Regions from separate parts of the Homo sapiens genome. Here region 2 is linked to region 1. The links come from fine-mapping of genetic effects on gene expression. A gene starts in region 1. The other region holds a variant in brackets. All regions are shown on one strand. Distances are from middle to middle. Region 1 holds the start of RHPN1 (rhophilin Rho GTPase binding protein 1). Region 2 overlaps TOP1MT (DNA topoisomerase I mitochondrial).

Region 1 (9,036 bases):
CCCGAGCTGACCCTGTGACTGGGGAGGGATTGATGGCCCCGTCTCACCGGGAAGCCAGGTGCATCTTTTACTAAAGGTGGTTTCTGAATGATGAATGGCTTTCTCACGAACATAACACTGTTGATTGTATTTACAAACAATTCATTTTCACGTTCTGTTGATTCTGCCCCAGCCGTCCCTCCTGTTGCCTCCACAGATGATGCATTGGTGGCTATTACCACCATTGATGAAGGCGTCCTGCTCGCCCTGTGGTACCTGTTACTCCATTCATCACAGTTGAGCAGCCTGCGTGCAGCGGGAGAGCGTGTTCTCTTCGGGCCTTGCAGTTATTTATCCTTGAATTTGTGTGGGTTTGTGCACCTCTAAATACAGGTGCAAACCCACACTCCAAGATCTTAACAGGCGCAACAGTGGCCAAAATACACGGCCAGTTAAATTCTTGGGGTTTAGCCAGTCCCCCAAAGCCCACCTCTTCCACTCCACATTCTAAAAAAATACCGATGCGCATAAACAGTGTCAGCAACCTCCACTAATTAAGGCTTCCAACCAGAAGGAAAGCTGAAGTAAGTACCAGCGATCAGCATCAAATCATCAACTTTTAGGGCTGACCTAAAAGACCCCAAGCCTGAATGCCCCAGCACCCACTGGGCAAGGGGCAGCCAGTCCCCAGCATGGCCTAATCCAGGCCAAGCAGGAAATTTCTGGAATCAGCTGCTTTTTCCACATTTCTCTATCTAGACCCCCTCCTCCTGGCTGCCTCTCTGGTTCAGTGGTGGCGTTCCCCTGAGCTTGACCGGGCTCTGCAGATGGGCTGGCATGCATGGAAGAAGCTGGCGCTGTGAGGAGTCCTGGCTTCCCGCTCACAGCCATTGGGCCTTGGGTGAGTCAGTCAGTCTCTCCAGACCTTGAGGTCTTCACCCAGGACATGTGGAGGCTCAGAAAGGAGCCCAGGTTCCTGCCCATCTGGAAAATCTGCATGTTCCTGGTTGCAGCAAGAGTCTGCCAGGCTCACACTTGCAAAGTACTGGTCCATATAAAAGCATAAAGCAGGCCAGGCACAGCGGCTCACACCTGTAATCCCAGCACTTTGGGAGGCCAAGGTGGGCCAATTGCTTGAGCCCAGAGTTTGAGACAAGCCTGGGCAACATAGCGAGACCCCATCTCTACAAAAAATACAAAAGTTATCTGGATGTGGTGGCGCATGCAAGCGGTCCCTGCTACTTGGGAGACCGAGGTGGGAGGATTGCCTGAGCCTAGGAGGTTGAGGCTGCAGTGAAGTGAGCTGTGATCACACCACTGCACTCCAGCCTGGGCGACAGAGAGCCACCCTGTCTCAAAAAAAAAAAAAAAGGCCAGTCACAGTGGCTCACACCTATAATCCCAACACTTTGGGAGGCCAAGGCAGGCAGATCACTGGAGCTCAGAAGTTCAAGACCAGCCTGGGCAACAGGGCGAAACCCTGTCTCAATTTTTTTTTCTTTATAAATTACAAAAGAGAAAACGAGCATAAAGCAGCCCCATCAGCAATTATCACCTCATCTGCAAAAGGTCCCGGCGCTCACTGCCGTGCCCCTCCCGCCGCTGTCCAGTTCCCTGCCTGTCACACCAAAATTCTCCTCTACTTTCTCACCTCCCATCCTTTCATTTTTCCCCCTAAATTTTTAAACTTCAGAAGTGCACAATACACATGTAACAAACCCACACATGTACCTCCAAATCTAAAATAATTTAAAAAAACAAAAAGGAAACTCTAAATTTTTTGAGTGCAGTGATACATTCTTGCTGTGCCAAATCCAGTAACACAGAAGCATGCAAAGAAAAAGGCAGCACCACCCCCCTCCAACACACACACACACACACACACACGCACACACGCACATATGCACGCACACACACGCACACGCACACACGCACACGCACACACTCCAGCCTGGGCGACAAGAGCAAGACTCCATCTCAATAAATAAATAAAGAAAATAGTAATTGAATATTTTCCTTCAGGAAACAGCACCCTGCAGGGAGGGGAAGTCTTATGACCCTCAAAGTTTGAGAGCCTCTCTTAACTTCCCAATGGCCTCTGTCTGCTGAACCAAGAAGCCTGCAAAACAAATACGTAAGAACTGGATACCATTTCAGTCACACATGCTTGCTGACAGTCACTGATATGGTAATGCCTCCTGTACACATAGCTGACTCTGAAGACTGCTAAGAGGGTTTGGGTCTCTGCTGTACAGGACCTTGGCAGCCTGCAAGGAGATGACTCACATGGAAGTCCCCACACAAGTGCACCCAGTGTGAACTTTGGAAGCATCGGCCCATGCTCAGGCCCACAGGTAAGATGGCCAGGAGCCCCTAACCTTGAGGAAACTTGAACCACAGAGCTGCTGGCGAAGGGGGTGGGTGAAGGTCTCATGTAGCCTGTGTGATTCAGGCAGAAGTGAGAAGGACGGGTGGGAACCCACCAAGTGGACGACAAGCTGAAGGGCTCCCAGGGAGCAGACACTTCAAGGGCCCCAAAAGGCCAGGAGAAAGAAAAAAAAAAGCCGGGTATGGTGGCTCATCCCTGTAATCCAGCACTTTTGGGAGGTTGAGGCAGATGAATTGCTTGAGCCCAGAAGTTTGAGACCAGCCTGGGCCTGGGCAATGTGGCGAAACCCTGTCTCTACAAAATATACAAAAATTAGCCGGGTGTGGTGGTGCAAGCCTGTAGTCCCAGCTATTCAGGAGGCTGAGGTGGGAGGATCACATGAGCCCAGGAGGTGGAGGCTGCAGTGAGCTGTGATCGTACCACTGCACTCCGGCCTGGGGAACAGAGTGAGGCCCTGTCTCAAAAGGCCAGGAGTGGAAGACAGGCCCTAGCCAGGAGGTTTCGCGTGGCTGGCAGGGGCCTTATGAGAAGGCTGTTGCTGGGAGGGGCCTGCTGCAGATGGCTGCGGCAGACCACGGAGCTTAGCCTTCAGGATTTAGATCTGGGGATGACAGGCTCCTGTGTGCTTGTTGCGGAGCCGGGAGCACAGGCACCAGAATGATCCCAGGGCTCAGCTCCAAGGCTCCGCTGGGCCTGTGGTGGGGCAGTGAACGTGGACAAGACCTGGGCTTCAGAGGAACTTGATGACCAGGAGCCGTGGTTACCGCCTGTGCCCTGGCCTTCCTGCTCTTCAAAGGGTGTGTTCTGAGCTGAGGCGAGACCCACACGAAATCCGAGCGGGCTCCGGAGTCACCAGACACCTAGGGAAGTATGGAAGGCCCGGAAGGACACACACAGCCGGGTGAGCCCCGCAGGGAGCTGTGCAGTCTCAGGTCGTCCAGTCCTGGGGCTGCAGGCCAGTTCTCCAAGCAGGTGGTCCTGGAGGCAAGCTGGTTTTGAAAGTAGGTTCTGAAAATAGGTCAGTCCAGGAAACAAGCTCTGGAAGTAAAGAGATTCGGAAAGCAGGTTCGTTCTGGAAACAAGTTCTACAAACAGGTAGTTCTGAAAGCACGTGGGTTCCAGAGGCAGGTGCTAGAAGGATGTGGGTTCTGTACGGAGGTTCTGGAGGGAGGCGGGTTCTGGACGGAGGTTCTGGAAGGAGGCGGGTTCTGGAGGCCGGTTTTGGAAGCAGGACGACACCGACAGAGGCGCCTCGGACTGGGGCCAGGCCTGGAGCCTCCGCTCCGCGGGCAGAGAGAAGAAAGCAGGCATTGTCGGAGGACTCACACAAGCACTTGTCCCTAACAAAACCGTTTTTAAAAACCCCATTGTGAACATTTTTGGAACAAGCCTCTTAGAGGGTCCCGTTGCCGGGGTGACAGGACGAAACGGCGCGAGCGGGCAGACTCCTGGAGTCCCCGCAAAGGGAGCCGAGGAGCTAGGCGCGCCGAGTCCAGGTCCGCCCTGACTCTCAGCTTGGGACGTTCCGTATAGTTTTTTTCTCCGTTTCCCGAACTTCTCCCGCACGCTCAGCGGCCGCCGCGGCGCATGCGCAGTACAACCTGCCAGCCAGCCGCGGGCGTTCCGGCCGCGGTTGCCAGGGGTTACCGTCCCGCGGGCGGGCGGAGCTGGCCGTCCAGAGCCCGCCTTCCTGGAACTCTGGTTGGCTGATATAGCTGTCCGTCGAAGCGGCATTGCCGCCTATTGGGCAATGGCCAGCTTCGCACGCCAGACCCGTGCCCCGCCCAGCCGCGCCGCGGGCCGCCCCCACTCAGGAGGGACAGTCGGGGACCGGCGCGGGCACTCAGGAGCCCGCGGCCCAGGTGGTGCGGGCGGCCCTAGCCCGGCTGCGGAGCGCTGCGCGAGCGGCGGGCTGGCTGACCCCGAGGGACCCCCAGCGCAGCGGGTGCGGCGATGATCCTGGAGGAGAGGCCGGACGGCGCGGGCGCCGGCGAGGAGAGCCCGCGGCTGCAGGTGCGCAGAACTGGCGCGGCGGCGGGAGGAGGGGCCCGGAATCCCGGCCTTTTCCTGCCCCCCCTCGAGGCGCGTTCCGGGCGCCCCCCTCCTACGTCTCATTCGGCCCGGACGCAGGCAGGGAAACTGAGGCCAGAGCCTGCGTCCCTCCTCCTCTGAGCTCGGTGGAGGTGCTTCCAGGCCACTCATGTGAGCCGGGAAATGCGGACAGCCAAAGTCTGGATCATCCTCACCGCTGAAGCGGGTTGGGGGGACGCCCTCCTCGTGTCCCCCTTCTGGGCGGATGTGGGGCTGGGCTCTGTGAGCGCCCTCCCCACACCCGCCATCGTGTTCCTTTCCGGCACCTGTACAGCCTCCTTCCCTAGTTCGGTCCTCCCTCTGCATCCGCTCAGGAACTGCATGCCCATTGGGTGCACTGGTAGCAGCGGGCAGCGAAGCCTCCTGGGTATGGGAAACCGAGAGAGGTCTTCCCGGCTGGCCTCTTCTCACTTCCCAAACCTCCTTCCCTTCTGAAGTCCCTAACCCGGGGTGCTGACTGGGCAAGTGGGAGGGGTGGGCAGGGCTGTGGAGACCTGCTGAGTCTGTGCCTGGGAAGGAGGGGACGTCTGTGGGCCTTGCTCTGCAGCCCAGAGCCTGCTTGTTCCCTGCGGACCAGCTCGAGGCTGCCCCAGTCCTCCTGCCAGGCCCTGGGCGCCCACGCCCGCCACGGGCTTTCAGCCGCGGGCTGCTCCTGCTCCTCGCCCCGGGTGAGCCTTTGATAGCGCGCGGCCCTCCTCCCCTCTGGGACGTCAGACTGTGTTGTCCCTGGGCTGGTTCTACTCGGCTTTGGTGTTTGGGGTTAGGTCTCCTAGAGGAGGAGGCGGTGCTATCAGCCAGGGTTTGGCTTCAGGTCACTGGGCTGGTGATGCTGACCGTAGCCCTCAAGGACGCCCTTCTTGCCCACCCCGAGGCGTGCCAGAGGCTGCAGCACCTCCTGGGCACTGGAGGGAAAGAGGCAGCCTGTGCCTGCCCCCTATGAACTTGCTCTGTCAGGGCGGCCATGCCTGCAGGTGGCCTGGGACGGCACATGTTGTTTTGGGTGGAATGTTTGGGAGGCTGTACAAACAAGATGTCCCAGAGGGCTCCGGAGGTGACGCTTTTCAGGCTGGGGGCTGTGCCTGGGCTCCCTGTCCTGGCCCTCCCTGGGCTGCCACCTTGGAAAGTTGGGGAGAAGCTGTTTCCAGGCTGCCGTGTCTCTCACAGCGTCCAGAAATGACCCCACAGTCAGGGTACTGGGGAGGGGCCCGTGGGAGGTGGCAGTGGGGCGGAGGCAGGCCCTGTGTCACACGCGCACCACTCAGGCTGTCCTGCCATCTGGAAAGTCTTCCCCGATGCCTGCTGCCGGGCTAGAGTGAGGCCTGTTCCACCCCCATCAGGCTGGCCCCCAAACTGGCCCTAAAGCTCAGAGTTCAGTGGGTCAGGGGTCGGTCGTTCATCCACTTAGAGGCCACACCTGGGCCTGAGGCCCTGTGGACAGGTCTGGGTGACTTGTATTTGCCCCAGGCGTGATGAGAGCAGGCTTCCAGCAAGCGCTTACCTGGTGCCAGGGCCAGTGCTACAGCTGGAGTCCTGCCATTGGTGCCTCCCAAGCCCTGGGCCTCAGCCCGTCTGATGAACAGGGTGAGTAAGTGGCCAAGGCTGCCAAGCTGGGAAGGGGAGAAGCCTGGCACGGCCCAGGGTGGCCAACCCAGCTGCCGTCCCTCCCGCAGGGGCTGCAGGGGCTCCCGGGGGAGGACCACAAGGAATACAGCCTGGCTGTATGCAGAAGGTTCTGTGGTTTCCTGGGGAGGCCAGTGGGAGAAGGGGGAGCAGGCTGCAGAGGGAGAGCGTTGGAGCAGCAGGTGGGCAGGGTGGCTGTGCCCCCCTCACCTGGTCTCCAGCATGCCGAGTGGGTCAGCCTGAGGTTCCCCAGCCTGGCTGGACAGGAGCACCCTCTGGGTGCTGGTTACAGGTTCCCAGGCCCCTGCCCAGGTAGATTGGGCTCCAGGAAGAGGGGTGCTCAGGAAGCACCAGTGCCTGGGTACCCCAGGGAGCATCAGAGAGAGTGGGAGTCCCTGCCGTGAGTGGCCAGTCTATGATTCCTCTGGCGTGCGTGCTGCTTATAGCCCTGTGTCCCAGGAGACACCTGTGCAGCAATGCCCTTTGAATTCTGTTCCCTCATCAGTGGGGGGCAGAGATGGTGGGTCAGGTGGGTGCTGGGCTTCCACCCTCCTGGGGCTTCCAGTTCTTGCATTCAGGTGAGACTTCAGTGGGGGCAGAGGAGAGGGGTACCTGAGATGGGTGGCTGTCAGCATACAGGGTGCCCAGGGCCAGGGCTCTGAAGGGAAAAAGCTGGTTTGCTCCAGGTGGGTGACCTCTCCCTGGGGACTGCCTGGCCCAGGGCCAGGGGATCCTGGGGGAGAGTGGAGGTCTGGCCCTGCTCTGATGTTTTGCTGTTCCCAGACCTGGGCTGGGATAACTATCTCTGCCTTTTGCCCGTCCCCAGGTCAGCCCCACTCTGGCCAGGGCCACACTGTTTCCTCCTGGGCAGAGGAGCCCCAGTGTCAGGGTTGGGGGGCTGTTTCTCTGTTCTTCGTCCCTCTCCATCGAGGCATGGCCAGGCCCTTCATGTGTGGCTGCCTCTCGGGACCCCCACAGACCACAGCCTCTCTGTCCTTTCCTAATGCAAGGCGGAAATGGCCACAGTGGGGTGTCAGGGCACCGTGGACGTGGGGGTGGGGAGCTCCAGGTCACCTTTGTCTCCAGAGGGTGGGGAGGTTGTAGCAGGAGTAGGGGCCTGAACGCCTGTGTCTATGCCCCTTCCACTGGGCTCAACCTTCAACCCAGTGTGGAAAGTGGGGCATGGGCCGCCCACCTCCAAGGTCTACCCAGCCTCAAAGGTCCGGCTCGGGTCTGCTCCTCCGCCTGTAGGCCGGGAAGTCACTTGGCCTGCAGGGAGCACTGCGGGTAGGGAGGCCGAGGAATGGACCAGGCCCACAGCAGGTGCCTGTGGGGCTCCAAGGGGCCAGGCTCCCCGCAGCTCTCCTGGGGCCAGGAGGGGAGCAGGGACCTGGCTGGGTGTCTGATGCCCGTCGCACAGCCAGAGCCCTTAAAGCTGCTGGAGCCTTGCAGCGGGGCCTTTGCGGGGAGGGGGTGTAGCTGCGGTGGGTGGCACGGGGGTCTCCTAGGTACTGGGCAGAGGCCCTCGAGGTGGTAGCGCCGGTGGGAAAGGTAGGGATGGGAGGCGGGGGTGGGCGGGCCTCAGGTTCAGGGAGCTTCTCAGATCTGAGGCGCCCATGCCCCTCTCCCACCTGTGGGCCTCTCCAGCCCGAGTCCCTGAAGCAGCTCTGGAGGGAATTTCTTTTCTGGAGGAGGCGGGAGTGAGAAACGGGAGCAGGGTGAGGGTTCCCAAGTGCACATCGGCCCGTCCGCTGCTGGGTGGTGTCCACGGGGGCAGGGCTGGGCTGGGGGAGGCCAGGGTCCTGGGCCGGCACACCCTCCTTCCGGCTGCCTGTGTCCCTCCCTCCAGCTGCCTGTGTCCATCCCTCCGGCCGCCTGTGTCCCTCCCTCCGGCCCCTAAGCGCCAACTCATCTTCAGTTCAGGGACCTCCGTCAGGCTCCCTCACCCCAGCACTCAGCAGGAGGCTGCCGGCCTGGGTGTCCAGGGGATGGTGCGGGTGTCCAGCAGACAGTACAGGGGTTTGGGGGATGGTACAGGTGTCTGGGGGATGGCGTGGGTGTCCAGCAGATGGCGCAGGGGTTTGGGGGATGGCACAGGTGTCTGGGGGACAATGCGGGGGTTTGGGGGATGGCGTGGGTTCCAGGGGATGGTGCAGGGGCTTGGGGGATGGTGTGGGTTCCAGGGGACGGTGTGGGGGTTTGGGGATGGCGCGGGTTCCAGGGGACGGTGTGGGGGTTTGGGGATGGCGCGGGTTCCAGGGGATGGTGTGGGGGTTTGGGGATGGCGTGGGTTCCAGGGGACGGTGCGGGGGTTTGGGGATGGCGTGGGTTCCAGGGGACGGTGCGGGGGCTTGGGGGATGGTGTGGGTTCCAGGGGACGGTGTGGGGGTTTGGGGATGGCGTGGGTTCCAGGGGATGGTGCAGGGGCTTGGGGGATGGCGTGGGTTCCAGGGGATGGTGCGGGGGCTTGGGGGATGGTGTGGGTTCCAGGGGACGGTGTGGGGGTTTGGGGATGGCGCGGGTTCCAGGGGATGGTGTGGGGGTTTGGGGATGGCGTGGGTTCCAGGGGACGGTGTGGGGGTTTGGGGATGGCGCGGGTTCCAGGGGACGGGGCGGGGGCTTGGGGGATGGTGTGGGTTCCAGGGGACGGTGTGGGGGTTTGGGGATGGCGTGGGTTCCAGGGGACGGTGTGGGGGTTTGGGGATGGCGCGGGTTCCAGGGGACGGTGTGGGGGTTTGGGGATGGCGCGGGTTCCAGGGGACGGGGCGGGGGCTTGGGGGATGGTGTGGGTTCCAGGGGACGGGGCGGGGATTTGGGGGATGGCGTGGGTTCCAGGGGACGGTGTGGGGGTTTGGGGATGGCGCGGGTTCCAGGGGACGGGGCGGGGATTTGGGGGATGGTGTGGGTTCCAGGGGACGGTGTGGGGGTTTGGGGATGGCGCGGGTTCCAGGGGACGG
Region 2 (8,470 bases), 43 kb before region 1:
ACACACATGCACACCACACGCACGCCACACACAGGCATGCCACACAGGCACGCCACACAGGCACGCCACACGCACGCCACACACACAGGCACGCCACACAACAGGCACGCCAAAGATGCACGCCACACACACGCACGCCACACACAGACACGCCACACACATGCACGCCACACACATGCAGGCCACACACATGCATGCCACACAGGCACGTCACACACACACGCCACACGCACACCACACACGCACGCCACACACGCACGCCACACACGCACGCCACACGCACGCCACACGCACGCCACACACAGGCACGCCACACACGCCACACACGCACGCACGCCACACACGCACGCCACACACAGGCACGCCACACACATGCACACACACATGCATGCCACACACAGGCACGCCACACACGCACACCACACACGCACGCAACACACACGCACGCCACACGCACGCAACACACGCACGCCACACGCACGCCACACACGCACGCCACACACGCACGCCACACACAGGCACGCCACACACGCCACACACGCACGCCACACACGCACGCACGCCACACACGCACGCCACACACAGGCACGCCACACACATGCACACACACACATGCACGCCACACAGGCACGCCACACACAGGCACACCACACACGCACGCCACACACAGGCATGCCAAACACGCACGCCACACATGCACGCCACACACACAGGCACACCACACACAGGCACGCCACACAGGCACGCCACACACACAGGCACGCCACACACGCATGCCACACACAGGCACGCCACACAGGCACGCCACACACAGGCACGCCACACACACAGGCACGCCACACACATGCACGCCACACACGCACGCCACACACGCACGCCACACACATGCTCACCACACGCACGCCACACACATGCACGCCACACACATGCACGCCACACCCACAGGCACGCCACACAGATGCATGCCACACACACAGGCACGCCACACACGCACGCCACACACACAGGCACGCCACACACGCACGCCACACGCACGCCACACACATGCTCACCACACACGCACGCCACACACATGCACGCCACACAGGCACGCCACACACACATGCACGCCACACACATGCTCACCACACACGCACGCCACACACATGCACGCCACACACACAGGCACGCCACACACACACGCACGCCACACACACAGGCACGCCACACACGCACGCCACACGCACGCCACACACATGCTCACCACACACGCACGCCACACACATGCACGCCACACACACAGGCACACCACACACATGCACGCCACACACACATGCACGCCACACACATGCACGCCCCACACAGACATGCCACACACAGGCACACCACACGCACAAGTGCACACACACCACACAATGCACATGCACACCCTACACACATGTTCACACCCACACACGTGTGCACATGCACACACCCCCCCCATCAGAATGAGGTTCCACCCCACACACAGGCCCACGTCGCCACACTGCACCATCCAACTGGGAGTCCTCGCCAGGAGAACCAGGATGAAGAGCCGCCAGGAAGCGAGAAGGCCGCATACCTTATCGATGAAATACAGGGCCACCGCCCGCTGTCTCGTCTTCATTTCCCGAGACTTCCAGTCAGCCCGGTACTGGGAGCGGATCTCGTCCACAAATCCCCGCAGGCGTCGAGCTGTTTCAAACTTCTGCCAAGCTGTCTCCCCCTAAACGAAGAAAATAACAGGAAAGAAAACATTCACATTCCTGTTAAATAACGGAGGAGGCTGTCAACTCTCCCTCCCCCAAACCTCGTGCTTCTCCACTCAGTGGTGCCGTGGTCAGGGGCTGGGGCAGCAAATCTAGCTGGGTGATGCCGGCAGTGAGCACCCATGCCCACTCCTGGCTTTGGGGCTTGTGCCTGCTGGCACAGCATGACCTCAGCACGGGCTGGCCGACTCCCAGCCCATCTCAGAAGCCTCTGCCGGTGCCCGGCTTACACACCTCCCTGCCGGCGTCCTCAGGGGGACCTCCTGGGGAGGAAACACCCTGCCAAGCCCTGCGCTCACCTTCAGCTTCGAGCAAGGGTTCAGCATGATGTACTTGATGGAGTTCTGAACGCTCTCGGTCCAAGCTGCCAGCCACGTGACGGTGTTATCGGAGCGCACCTCCTTCCACTGGTGCCCCGCCGGCGGCTCGGGGATCTTCGAGTCCCTGCAGCAGAACAACGACCCAAACATAACTTGGAGACCTTATTCTCTGGAATGCAAGCAAAAGGAGCTGCTCTGGTCAACCGTCCCACGTGGTGGCTATGGTGGTGGCATGGCTCCTGACCGAGTCTGGCATCAGAGGTGGCCTGCCTGGCAGCTCAGACAAAAGCAGCCACTCAATCTACCCTCTGCACACACAGGAAGGCCACAGTGCACCAGGAGGCTGGGCGGCCACCCAAGCAAGGCACCGCTCTGCACAGACCTCTCAGCACCAACTGGGACGACGAGTGCCCTGCCCCACACAGCCTGGCCACTGGGGGTCCTGCAGGCAGGGTCCCTACTCCACCCTGTGGTCACACAGTACAACATGTGGCCCAGCAGTCCCCTCTCCACCACTTGGAATGTCCCTCCAATAAGTTCAAAACACCTAATGCTACTGGGCCATCCAGATGGTGTGGGATATGAAAACCACATGGAGGTGTCCTTGGCGGGAGAAAGTCTCAGCCATAGCAAGGCGAGGACTTCCGACCCCGTGGGAAGCACCCTGGGAAGGCCGCCCTTGCCCGGCCACGCCTACAGGCTGAGCTCCACAGGAATGGTGTGGGGGTCACCAACCACATGTTTCTCGGTGTGCCTCCCTCTCCCAGGAGGTGAAGAAAAGCCAGCCTCACCCGGGTGGCGGGGGTCCAGTGCCCGCCTGCTGCCCGCCCGGCCACGCACCTGCTGCAGTTGATAACCACATCCTCTGGCGTGATCCTTCTCTTCAGCATCCCCATCTTGGGATGGTCGCCACGGCCACGGAACAAGCCAGGCGGCTCAATCTTGAAGTTGCCTATTTTTTCTTGGTGACCATCTAAAATACAGTAGCCGAACTCTTGCTGAAGTTTTTCTGCCTCTTCTTTTAGCTTCTGAGTTAATAAAACAGTCAGTGGACATTAGCAGTGAAGAGAAGAGAACAGGCCTCAGTCCGTTGTTGCTAACCCGGGACCACCCTGCTCTGTCTGGCTAACTCAGCTGGACCCTCAAAGCCCTTCACAATCCATGGAGGTTGCAGGGGCAGGGGACAGTGCAGGTGGGCTTGCAGGGGGCACCGAGAGCCATGGCCTAACCACCCCATGGCCTGGACTCCCCGGCCCCTGCACAGACTTCGGCTGTTTTAGGCCTAAGCAGTAAAGCCAGGTGGAGGGAGCGTGGCTGCCCGCCATGGAGGAGGAGGGCTAAGGGAATCCCTGAGAAGGCCACATGGAGATCACAGCACGGCAGGTTCCTGTTAGATGTAGGGAGACGCATGGCACAGAACAGCAAGAAG[C/T]CGACTGGCCTGCACAAGCCCCGCCCTCAGCCCACGGCCCGTCTGGGAACCCACCCTTGATCAATGATGGTAAATTATCCATTTCAAACCGGGTTTACTCTCAAATGTGCTCTGGGGAAGCGGAACGACACTTAAGCACATGCAGGGGCGCTAAGGCTGACGAGAAAAGAGCAGCTTTGTGAGAAGGGGCTTCTCTAAGGCCACAGGCCTTTCTCAGTCTTTGGGCCAGGCCGGCCTCTCGTTCCCAGGGGCCACTTCAGGTCACACAACGCTCGAGGCAGCCCAACCTGCTTCTCCTCCCTGCTCAGGACTTTCCGGGCTGCGGCCTTGTCCACAAAGTATCTGTGGATCTCCGTGAAGTCACACTTGTCCAGGCTCTTGATGACTTCCCTCTCTTCCACCGCCATTTCCTGCAAAAACCACAGACACGCGCTCTCACCATGTCTGAAGGACAGACATGCAGAGCGCTCTCGCCATGTCTGACGGACAGAAACGCGCTCTCGCCATGTCCGACGGAGGCGTGTGTGCAATAGGCAGAACCTGCGCACGGTCCTGCGGCCCCGTAAATAGAGCCTCTCCCCGCAGACCCCACAGATAGAGCTGGTTCTGTTATTGCAGGCATGGAGTTGGGTGGGGCAGCGGAGGGCACAGTTCTCCAAAAGCAACTTCACAACAAGTCAGTAGTAAAACTGGCTAAAACCTTTGCACCCAATAATTCCACTTTGAGATCCATCCTAAATAAACTCTCCAGTATGAAAACCCGGATGACGACCGCACTAAGGGCAACTGCAGAAACGTCATGACCGGACAGAGCAGGATACATGGTCGGGAGCTCATCTGGTGAACGTGACGGGATTCGCGAGGGCAAAGTCTCAGTCCATACGTGCTGCTGCCACAAAATACCGGGGACTGGTCAGTTGTAAATCATAGTCACAGCTCTGGGGGCTGGAAGGCTGGGATCAGGGTCCCAGCATTTGACGTCTATGGAGGGCCCAGTCCCTGCTTCTGAGAGGATGCCCTGAAGGCTGTCCTCACACAGTGGAGGGGACAGAAGGACAGAAGGGGCCCAGCTAATTCCACCCAGCCCTGCCCTAAGGCCCTAAATTAATCCTAAGGGCTGCAGCAAGGTGGAGTCCTCACAGCCCAATCAGCTCCTAAAGGCCCTCCCTCTGTCCTGTGGTGCTGGGGATTCAGTTTCAAGGTGAATTTTGGAAAGCACAGCAGAAAACAGTTTGACGATGATCTACCCGTGTGGAGACTAAGCGGGATAAAATGCTAAGTGGGGAAAACATTACAGGCACACTGATCACACTCACACGAAAACTAGTGCCCAGGAAAAGCCAGGACGCGGGAACAGGAGACACTGACCTGAGGGAGAGCCGCAGATCACAGGCAACTGTTTCTCCTTTCGTTTCCTACACAACAAAAACTCTGCACAGCCCATGGACAAAAGCCCAGGCTTGCGGGCACCAGCTCACGGTCCCAGTCCAGGCTCGGCCACTTAGGCCTGTGAGACCTCAGGAGCTGCTGTCAAACGTGTCTCGCTGTGGGATGGGGATGATCCGCCTCTTCCGAGGAGCTCAGGTACGACACCATCTGTGCCAGGATGGAGCCCTGCTCGGCCACAACCACGGGCTCAGGGTCCGTCCCTGTGTCTCCCGGGGCCGCCGGATGTGCCACCCACTCCTGTTCTGCTGCTTTGTGACACTGCCTCCCTTCCTAGCTCTGCTAGTGACTGGAAGAAGTGCTGACCAGAGGGAGAATGAGGATGCCGGGCAGCTGGTGCCACCTCACAAAGCTGTCGTGAAAGGCAGAGGGGTGGCATCAGGCCAAAGAAGAGGGTCCAGAAGCGGAGCCTGCACAGGGGACAAGGAAGCACAGGCTCCAGCAGCTGGCTCGGGGCAGTCAGACACCCACATGCAACACACGAGCCTCGGCCTCTACCCCACACTATAACCAAAATTAACTCAGAGTTCCACCTAAACCAAGCTGACCTCAATGGAAACCTAAAACCAAAACTTCTAGGAAAAACATAGGAGGAAATCTCTGTGCTGCCGAATTCAGCAGATTTCTTAGACAAAACAACAAAAGCAAACCTGTGACAAAACATGAAACGTGGGACCTCATCAGTATTCCAAACTCCTGACCTTCCAAAGACATTGTTAAGAGAACGCAAATAGAAACTACAAACACCATGAAAGATTTTTGCAAATCATATTTCTGATAATGGACTTAAAACAGGACACAAAAGTACTCACCATAAAAGACAGATTGATAAACGGCATAACTAAGTTACAGTTTTCTGTTTGGAGACCTCACTGAGAAGTGAAAAGGCAAAGTCTGGGAGATGACATTCACAGCATGTGCGTCTGGCAAAGAACCTGCACCCAGGATGCGTTTTTAAAACTCCGATAAATGAGCGAGGAATACGCAAGCAACTCAGTTTTTTAAATAGACAAAAGTTCACGAAAGAAAATACTGAAATGACACGTCAGTACACCAAAAGATGCTTAATATCACTTGTCATTAGGGAAACGCAAACCACACCCACGGCGAGGTGTCATTTTGTGCCCACTAGAAAGGTGCCTCGCACCCGCGGCAGGCGTGTGGACAGTTCAGCCTGGTGTTGCTAGTAAGCTGGACACACGTGACCCAGCAATTTCACCCCAAGTCCTGTCAGAGGCAACTCACACATATGTGCCCTCACCCACGTGGGAATGTTCATGGCAGCTTTACACATGCAAAGGCCTAAAACAGGAATTAATCAAACACCCACGAATAGGGAAATGGACTAGCATGAGTCACGGAACAGAGGAAACGCGACCCGGCCAGAGCCAGGAAGATGCTGCGGGACAAGCAGTCAGGGGCGAGCCTCGCAGGTGTGGGGCAGACAGAAACCCCGGAGGGCACAGAATCCGCGGCACACACATAAAATCAGTCAGGCCATGGGCGAAGGGCAGTCACCTTGAAAATGAGCAAGGAAAAAGCCTTGAGGCAGCACCCTCCCCTCCAAAGAGCTTCTCGCCAAGCATGTCTTCCTGGGGGCTGGGAAATGGCATGCGGCCTCCTCTACTCTCCTTCTTATATGCCAGACCCCTGTCCTTTCAGCGGTCCATGGAGTAAGGACCACAAATCGGCCTCCACATCCACAGCCTGCCTGGGAAGGGAAAGGTCTGAGGTGCACTAGGCTGGACACACTGGCACCGCCTATGGTCCCAGCTACTCAGGAGGCCGAGACAGGAGGATGGCTTGAGCCCAGGAGCTCGAAGCTGCAAAGAGCCATGACGGCACCTGTGAGTGGTCACACAGGGGCCACCGAGAACTTGCGAGGGGCGTTCAGAGGCAGCACTGCAGAACCGCAGACGCCTAGCCAGCCAGGTCCAGGACAGCTGTGGCGGCCGCCCAGGGTACCTACCTTTCGCCAGTCATTGAAGAAGTTCTTCCGGAAAACCTCCTTTGTTGTGTATTCATGATCTAACATCCTCCCATAAAAAGTGGCGACCTCCTCCGCTGCCACGCTCAATCTCACAGGCCTTCCTGCAGGCATCGGAAGACACATCGTATGAGAGAGCGGCCAGAGGCTCGGCCTCCAGCTGACATGACCTCATTGCTTTAAACTACGCTTTCGTGCGTACTATGCCAAGAGCAAGAAGCTAGGCCTTCTTCTGTAAGTTCAGAAGCATGTTCTGCATGACACACGACAATCAACCTGCGTGGAGGTGGCGACCACAGTGATCTGGGAGCGGGTCGTGAGAAAGCTGCAGAAGATTTCAGGCGCTACTGCTTTCTCCTCCTTTACCACTTAACGTTGCTACTACATTTATATTACATGAAAATGGAACATGTACAATTTTAAAACACACCAATTTCCACAAAATTTCACAAGTAAAATAAAAGTTAAGGCTTCAAAGCAGAAAACTGAATAACTAGGTGTACCCTTTTACAACTCTGCGGCCTCTGTCCCACCATTCCCTGCATTTTATTCTAAGATCAGTGTGGTTTAGAGATGGGGGGTGAGCTGGGAGCAGGCGAGCAGAGTGAGAGGCTCGTGGTGGGAACGAGGGTGTTCACCAGGAATTCTTTCAACTGCACGTCTGAAAAGCTTTCATAAGAAAATTTTAGAGAAATAAATGCATAATCATTTGGTAAGAAGGAGGAAGGCATTTCTGATAAACAGCAGCAATCCTTCCCCAAACTAGCTTCTCAGGACAGAGGACGAGAGGCCCAGAGACCAGCAGCACAGGCCCGAGGGGCTCAGCTCCCACTGCCCCTCTGTGGAGGCTCGGCCCCACTGGGCCCCACGCGACACCACCACTCCCCGGACTGTCCACCATGGCCCTGCATAAGCAGTCCTCGCCTGCCATGTCCCTCCTGGCCAGGGAGGTCCTGCAGGGCTGCTGTGGGGCAGGCGAGGCAGCCGCTACACCAGGCCAGGGGCACAGCGCGAGACGCTCAGTAAGGTCCCATGGCCTCCCGTGGGCAGCCCCCACAGACACAGCTAGAACCTCTGTCCCTGTGGAAGCTCCAGTACCGCTTTGGAGAAACAGGCTTTGAACAAAACATTGCATCAAAGGAGCTCAGCAAACTCAGGTGTGCATGTGACTCGGCAGGGGGCCCACGGGAGGGCTGGTGGGAGGGGCACAGCATGGCGTGGGGGCCTGCCCTGGGGGAGAAGAGGTTTGCTTTTCTTAGAAGGATGCCTTCTAGCAGAGATGAAGAAAATAGGCTGAAGCAGCTAAAATCAGCAGCACAAGAGCCAAGCCAAAGCTCCTGGGCCCTGGGGTAGAGAGGAGGGCTCAAGGGCAGGAGGGGTGTGTGGGCCCTGCTGCCCCAGAGCCCCCGGGTCCTGCCTCTGAGGGTGGCTCAGCGCTCATGTCAACCACGGGCTCCGCTTCTTGCTGAGAATCACAAGCTGGGGTCAAGTGACCGTTCTGTGATCCATGTGTGTACACGCA

The links.
Region 2: its variant is fine-mapped to the expression of RHPN1 in whole blood (TOPMed, PIP above 0.99).

What each region holds. Positions count from the first base shown.
Region 1 is chr8:143,364,667-143,373,702 of GRCh38, forward strand. RHPN1 (rhophilin Rho GTPase binding protein 1) reads left to right here and starts at 4,210. Exons shown (of 15, transcript NM_052924.3): 1 at 4,210-4,381. The coding sequence starts at 4,322. It overlaps RHPN1-AS1 (RHPN1 antisense RNA 1), which reads right to left and starts at 3,969. Exons shown (of 1, transcript NR_026785.1): 1 at 1,957-3,969. RefSeq lists enhancers at 3,168-3,723, 4,464-5,371, 5,372-6,278 and silencers at 3,887-3,956, 3,967-4,426, 4,627-4,676.
Region 2 is chr8:143,322,420-143,330,889 of GRCh38, forward strand. TOP1MT (DNA topoisomerase I mitochondrial) reads right to left here. Exons shown (of 14, transcript NM_052963.3): 3 at 6,931-7,052; 4 at 3,803-3,925; 5 at 2,927-3,114; 6 at 2,066-2,210; 7 at 1,580-1,723. Among named protein-coding and RNA genes, the nearest start is that of TOP1MT, 8.2 kb to the right of the region's middle. RefSeq lists enhancers at 1-639, 640-1,301. The variant C/T (reference allele first, on the strand shown) is at 3,516.